2 linked regions of the Homo sapiens genome follow. The protein of the gene in region 1 purifies or fractionates together with the protein of each later gene. This does not show direct contact. Each region holds a gene or a part of one and is shown on either strand. Other genes may lie near its edges.

Region 1 (3,157 bases):
CTTCCAAGCCTCCATTTCAAAACAGCATTTTTTTTTTTTTTTTTTTAAGATGGAGTCCTGCTCTGTCGCCCAGCCTGGAGTGCAGTGGCGCGATCCCGGCTCACTGCAACCTCTGCCTCCTGGGCTCAAGTGATTCTCCTGCCTCAACCTCCTGAGTAGCTGAGATTACAGGTGCACACCACTAGCCCAGCTAATTTTTGTATTTCAAAACAGCATTTGAGCACCTACTGTGTGCCAGGCACTCTGCTGGATGCTTCACATGCACAATCACTTTTAACCTCTACATAACAGCCCAGCCAGCTATGTGGTATGACCCTCATTTTACAGATGAGGGAACCAAGTGTTAGAAGGACCAAGGCCATACCCGGTAGCATTTGTTAGAGGGGCATTCAGGCCCAAGTGTACCTAAGCGCATGCTGGAAGGGACAGTCAGTCACCATCACCACCAGCAGCTTGGACCTTATCCCTGTTCTGAGTGAATGGGAGGTAGAGAGAAGATGGAGAAGAGCTCGGCTCTATGAAGCTGAGGAGATGATGATCTCGGGGACTAGACATCTCAGGGACACTTTAGGCACAGGCTCAGAGTGCCACAGCTAGGTGACATCAGACAGCACCTCCAGTCCAACGTCCCACTGTACAGAAGAAGAAACTGGGGCCCAGAGAAGTCCACACTCTGGCCCTGGCTCAGCATCACCCAGGAACTTGTTTAGAATGCAGCCTCTCGGAATTGCCAGCTGATTTGTACGCACTGTGAAGGCTGCTGTGAGGACTAAATGAGATGGTGCTTCATCCTGTGCAATACATCATCAACACCGTCACATCCAGCATGCCATCACCTCTACCCCTCACCTGCCCTGACTGGGTCGGGGGTGGGAGAGGAGGAAACAAGAGTTTGACTCATTGGGGCTCGCTGCTGGAGGCCCTGAGATCCTCTGTGGTTAGGAGACAGTTAAAACCTCAGGGATGCCCAGGCCAGCCCAGGCCCAGCTGGCAGTAGAGCTTCTCTCCCAGCCTCCCTCTGCCTCCACCCTGGACCCTGGGAGCGGGTAGCGAGAGTGACTAAAGCCGGAGAGGCTGAGTAATCCTGGGACATCAACCAGGGATTGAGAAATAGAGAGACAGGAAATATTTTCAAGCCGGCATAAGAGGAGGAGGGCACACGGGAGGGGAGAGCCGGGATGCGCCTCGGTTTTTCTCTTCACGCACCAGCGCTCAGGTTTCTACAGCCCCCATTTCATGTCGCAAATCCCCGGAGCTGAGAGCTTTCTGGGGGCGGGGGAGAGGGGTTGAGTGGGAGGGAGCAGCTGCCCACTTCCTCCTCTCCTACCCCAGCTGGCCCCCACCCCCAGCCCTTTCATTCCGCTGACATTTCTCTGTTTTCCCTAATTAACTCCAAAAGGAAGCCAGATCCGCCACCGCCCCGCCCCCTCCCCTCCAGCCGTCAGCCTCTTCAGCCTTTCCCAGCCTGGGAATGGAAGGGGTAGGGGAGGGGGGCCCAGATCTGGCTTCAAAGAGCCAGGATTCCAGAGTGATTTAGGGGCTAGAGGGGGGACCTCAGAGGCGCCAGAGAAAGAGCGGGGTGGGGGGTGTAGTCTCCCTGCACACAGAAAAGAATGAGGAGGAACACGGAGAAGCAGGGAGAAGGGAGGCAGAGACAGAATGACAGGAAGGGCCTGACGGAGTAGCTAGAAGCTCGGCCCACCCACGTCCTATGTGCACCCAAGATCTCTGAGTAGCACCCCGAGTGGGTGCAAGTGACAAAGCCATCCCCCGCCCACCTCGTGGGGGGTGCCCTGAGGTTGGGCTGGACCAGGAGGGAGAGAAGATATGGAAATCCAGAATGTAAAAGAAAGAGAATATTTGCTCTGCTCTGCCACTAAGGAACTGTGTGAGCTTGGTCAAGTCTCTGCGTGGCTCAAGCCTGTTTTCCCATCTATAAATCTGAGGGGAAGAAGTTGGATTGCCAGCTTTGACTTTCTGTAGAGTCAGTTCTCCAGTGCCCCTCCCTCTACACCCCACTCCCCCCAAGGCCCACCTTGGTCAAGGACCGGGATTTTCTCTTGGTCCCAGGAGAGGCAGACTTAGGAGAGCCTCAAGAAGCTGGACATCTTCTGGCCTGGACGAGGTGGGGGTGATGCCTTCTCTCCTGTGCCAGCCTCTACTCAGGGAAACTCAGCCCCCAGCTCCCTGACCTCCCTCTGTCCTCTTAACCTACCCCATCCCAGGGCCAAGGCAGCAACTCCAGAGTAGCCCAAGGAGGCTGATTAGCTGGAACACAGCTGGCTGAGCTGCAAACCGCAGCCTCCTTGAGAGCATCCCTCCCCGCAGATGTTTATTTTAAAAGCCTCCTCCCAAGTGTCGGTTTTTACTCTCCCTCTTACTTAACCCCTCTCAGCAGCCCCACAGGCCTGGCTGGGCTGGACTTCAGGAACCTCTCTGGTTTCAGGGCTAGGAAGCGGGTGTGAAAGTGAGAGCAGGGCCTGACCCACCACCTCCACCCCCAGGGTCCGTTCCCCAGGGCGCAGGCTTAGACGAGGGTCAGGCCCTGTGTGGGCCAAAGGTGGGAGGCCTTGACAGGGGAACGAGCTGCATGACTTGCTTGGAGGGTTTGGGGCCATAAATACTGATTTCATTTCTGTTTTTAACATCTGGATTTAGGCTAAAAAGCTGCTTCCTGGCCTCAGGGCGCAAGGCCACAACAGCTAAATATACCTGTTTATTTCCCTCAAGAGGCCAACTTGGCATCTCCTCAGACCCAGCCGCCTGCCACTTTCATACTCAGTCTCTGGCCTCTCTGGAATCATAGCCCCACCAGACCTGGGACAGCTCTGCCTCAGGAGGCCAGCAGTCCCTGCCACCTCTCTCTCTGTCCTTCCGTCAGCTGTAGGCCTGGCCCCACTTAACCTCACAGACATCTGGGGTAGAGTTGCCAGATTTAGTAAATAAAAGTACAGGGCTCCCAGTTAAATTTGAATTTCAGGTAAACAATGAGCATTTTTTTTTTTAGTACATTATGTCTCATGCAACATTTGAGACTGACTTATGCTGAAATAGTACTTGCTGTTTATCTGACATTCAACTGTAACTGGGCATCCTGTATTTTATCTGGCAACCCTGATCTGGAAGAATAAAGCAGAGCTCGAGGAAGAGGACAGCC
Region 2 (3,418 bases), on another chromosome or scaffold:
CTTTTTTTTTTTTTTTTTTTTTTGAGATGGAGTCTCGCTCTGTCACCCAGGCTGGAGTGCAATGGCGCCATCTCGGCTCACTGCAACCCCACCTTTCGAGTTCAATCGATTCTCCTGCCTCAGCCTCCCAAGTAGCTGGATCTACAGGTGCGTGCCACCACGCCCAGCTAATTTTGTATTTTAAGTAGAGATGGGGTTTCACCATGTTGTCCAGGCTGGTCTCGAACTCCTGACCTCAAGTGATCCACCTGCCTAGGCCTCCCAAAGTGCTGAGATTCCAGGCATGAGCCACTGCACCCAGCCTGCATCTGATTTATCTTTGAAACATCCAGGGACTAATAGAGTTCCTGAGACATGCAGGGCAAGTGTTCAGTGCAGATTTGCTGAATACATGAGTGTGTGGGTGGGTGACAGAACCACAATACAAAATGCTGCTCACCCAACCAGGAAGTCCACCCCCATCAGCCCCACCTCCAAGCCTCACCTTCCACAGGAGCAGCACCAGCAGTGCTAGCACCAGCAGCCCAGCCAGTACAGCCAGGAGGATGACCCACCAGGGCACTCCTTCTGCCACCACAGCCATGGGGTCCAAGTATACCATCACTGGGATCTGGGGAGCAAGGGGTCAATGGAGCAAGAGGTCAATGGAACAAGAACTGGAGGGAGCAGGAAAGAAGAGAGTCCTCCCCACCTATCCCCCAACCCTGCAGCTCACCACTGTGGAGGCATCTCGGAGCATCAAGTTCTTTATGGAGGACTTCACTGTGATGTTGGCCCGGACAATCACTTCCAGGGACTTCACAGCTGAGTACTCCTAAGGGAACAGGGAAGGAGACCCTTCTCCTAAATGCCCCATGTCTCCCTCCCTTCCCCTTACCTCCTGAAATTATAAATGTAATGGTGCCCAACACAGAGGATGTTTCTGCCTGGTTTGGGTTAAGAGTATGCTGCGTTTGGGCTGGGCACAGTGGCTCACACCTGTAATCCCAGCACTTTGGGAGGCCAAGGAGGGTGGATCACCTGAGGTCAGGAGTTTGAGATCAGCCTGGCCAACATGGCAAAACCCCGTCTCTATGAAAAATACAAAAATATCGGGTGTGGTGGCACGTGCCTGTAATCTCAGCTACTCAGGAGGCTGAGGCAGGAGAACCTCTTGAACCTGGGAGGCAGAGGTTGCAGTGAGCTGAGATCGCACCACTGCACTCCAGCCTGGGGGACAAAGGAAGACTCCGTCTCAAAAAAAAAAAAAAGGGGGGGGATGCTGCATTTGGACAGTGAGGAAGGAGGAGGAGAAATGAGTCCTGGAGGGGCTTTGGAGGAAGAAGAAACACAGACTAGAGCCGAGTGGTATCCTCACCTCCAGAAAGGTGCTGTTCCAGAGACGGCCCCAGACATGCAGCACAGCCGCGCGGTCAAAGCTGTAGAGTGGGCAGCTGAACACCACACAGTTGGCCGTGCCCCGGGCGCAGTCCTAGGGATAAGGACAGACAGGGGTCTAAGCCACTCAGCTCAACCCTGCTGAGACTGCCATCTCTCCCATTTTCCTTACTTGACCTCAAACTCCCCTCCTCCAGGAAGTCTTCTCAAACTAATCTTATATCCAAAATAGCTGCCTGCCCCAAATCTGAGCTATTCAGCTTTGAAATGCGTGGAGGGGGCAGCATGGAAGGGAATCTCTTACTTGACAGCACAGGCAGAGTAGCTTCCCCAAGTGATGCTTATGTTACCTAATGACAGTCCCATTTATTGAGCACCTACTACTTGTCAGGCACTTATCTCACTTAAGCTTCGCAATAGTCCTACAAGGTGCACATTATCATCCTCATTTTTCAAAGGAAGAAACTGAGGAGGCCCAAGGAGGCCAAGCGACCTGCCTCAGGTCACAGCACTAGCAAAGCTAATGAGTGGTGGAGCAAATATTTGAACTCAGGTCCATATTCGGCAAAGCCACACCCCTGCCCTAAACCCAAACTCGCTGAAGGAGGAGGAGGTAGCCTCAGGAGCTCCTGGGTAGACAGGGGACTCAGGCTCTGTTCTTTCCAGGACTGACCTAAATCCATTTGGCCCAATCACCACCTCACGACCCATTTGCCTGAAAGTTATGTTATATTCATCACACCACGATCCAGACACAGAAGAATGGCTTTAAGAGTGTCTGAATTATTTGAGTTATCTTTTATTTTGCCACTTTTGAGCCATTCAAGAATCCTTAGCCAAGCTGTCTAAAAGCAAGGCCTTCTGCCTTTTTAGTAAAAGAATCTACTTTAGTACTAGTACCAAAACAGAGATATAGATCAATGGAACAGAACAGAGCCCTCAGAAATAACGCCACATATCTACAACTATCTGATCTTTGACAAACCTGAGAAAAACAACCAGTGGGGAAAGGATTCCCTATTTAATAAATGGTGCTGGGAAAACTGGCTAGCCATATGTAGAAAGCTGAAACTGGATCCCTTCCTAACACCTTATACAAAAATTAATTCAAGATAGATTAAAGACTTAAATGTTAGACATAAACCATAAAAACCCTAGAAGAAAACCTAGGAATTACCATTCAGGACATAGGCATGGGCAAGGACTTCATGTCTAAAACACCAAAAGCAATGGCAACAAAAGCCAAAATTGACAAATGGGATCTAATTAAACTAAAGAGCTTCTGCACAGCAAAAGAAACTATCATCGGAGTGAACAGGCAACCTACAAAATGGGAGAAAATTTTCGCAACCTACTCATCTGACAAAGGGCTAATATCCAGAATCTACAATGAACTCAAACAAATTTACAAGAACAAAACAAACAACCCCATCAAAAAGTGGGCAAAGGACATGAACAGATACTTCTCAAAAGAAGACATTTATGCAGCCAAAAAACACATGAAAAAATGCTCACCATCACTGGCCATCAGAGAAATGCAAATCAAAACCACAATGAGATATCATCTCACACCAGTTAGAATGGCAATCATTAAAAAGTCAGGAAACAACAGGTGCTGGAGAGGATGTGGAGAAATAGGAACACTTTTACACTGTTGGTGGGACTGTAAACTAGTTCAAACCTTGTGGAAGTCAGTGTGGCGATTCCTCAGGGATCTAGAACTAGAAATACCATTTGACCCAGCCATCCCATTACTGGGTATATACCCAAAGGACTATAAATCATGCTGCTATAAAGACACATGCACACGTATGTTTATTGCGGCACTATTCACAATAGCAAAGACTTGGAACCAACCCAAATGTCCAACAATGATAGACTGGATTAAGAAAATGTGGCACATATACACCATGGAATACTATGCAGCCATAAAAAATGATGAGTTCATGTCCTTTGTAGGGACATGGATGAAATTGGAAATCATTCTCACTAAACTATCACAAGAACAAAAAACCAAACACCGCATATTCTCACTCATAGG

The links. Proteins that work in one complex are often made in the same cells at the same time.
Region 2: the proteins of PCDHGA5 (region 1) and ITGA7 purify together in Homo sapiens (affinity purification with mass spectrometry; 2 studies listed by BioGRID and IntAct, with this or other methods). This does not show direct contact.

Annotation. Positions count from the first base shown.
Region 1 is NC_000005.10:141,507,162-141,510,318, reverse strand, and holds part of PCDHGA5 (protocadherin gamma-A5 isoform 1 precursor), read right to left. Parts: intron 1-3,157. UniProt on the Homo sapiens protein: Potential calcium-dependent cell-adhesion protein. May be involved in the establishment and maintenance of specific neuronal connections in the brain.
Region 2 is NC_000012.12:55,687,487-55,690,904, forward strand, and holds part of ITGA7 (integrin alpha-7 isoform 2 precursor), read right to left. Parts: intron 1,472-3,418; coding exon 1,358-1,471; intron 815-1,357; coding exon 716-814; intron 611-715; coding exon 485-610; intron 1-484. UniProt on the Homo sapiens protein: Integrin alpha-7/beta-1 is the primary laminin receptor on skeletal myoblasts and adult myofibers.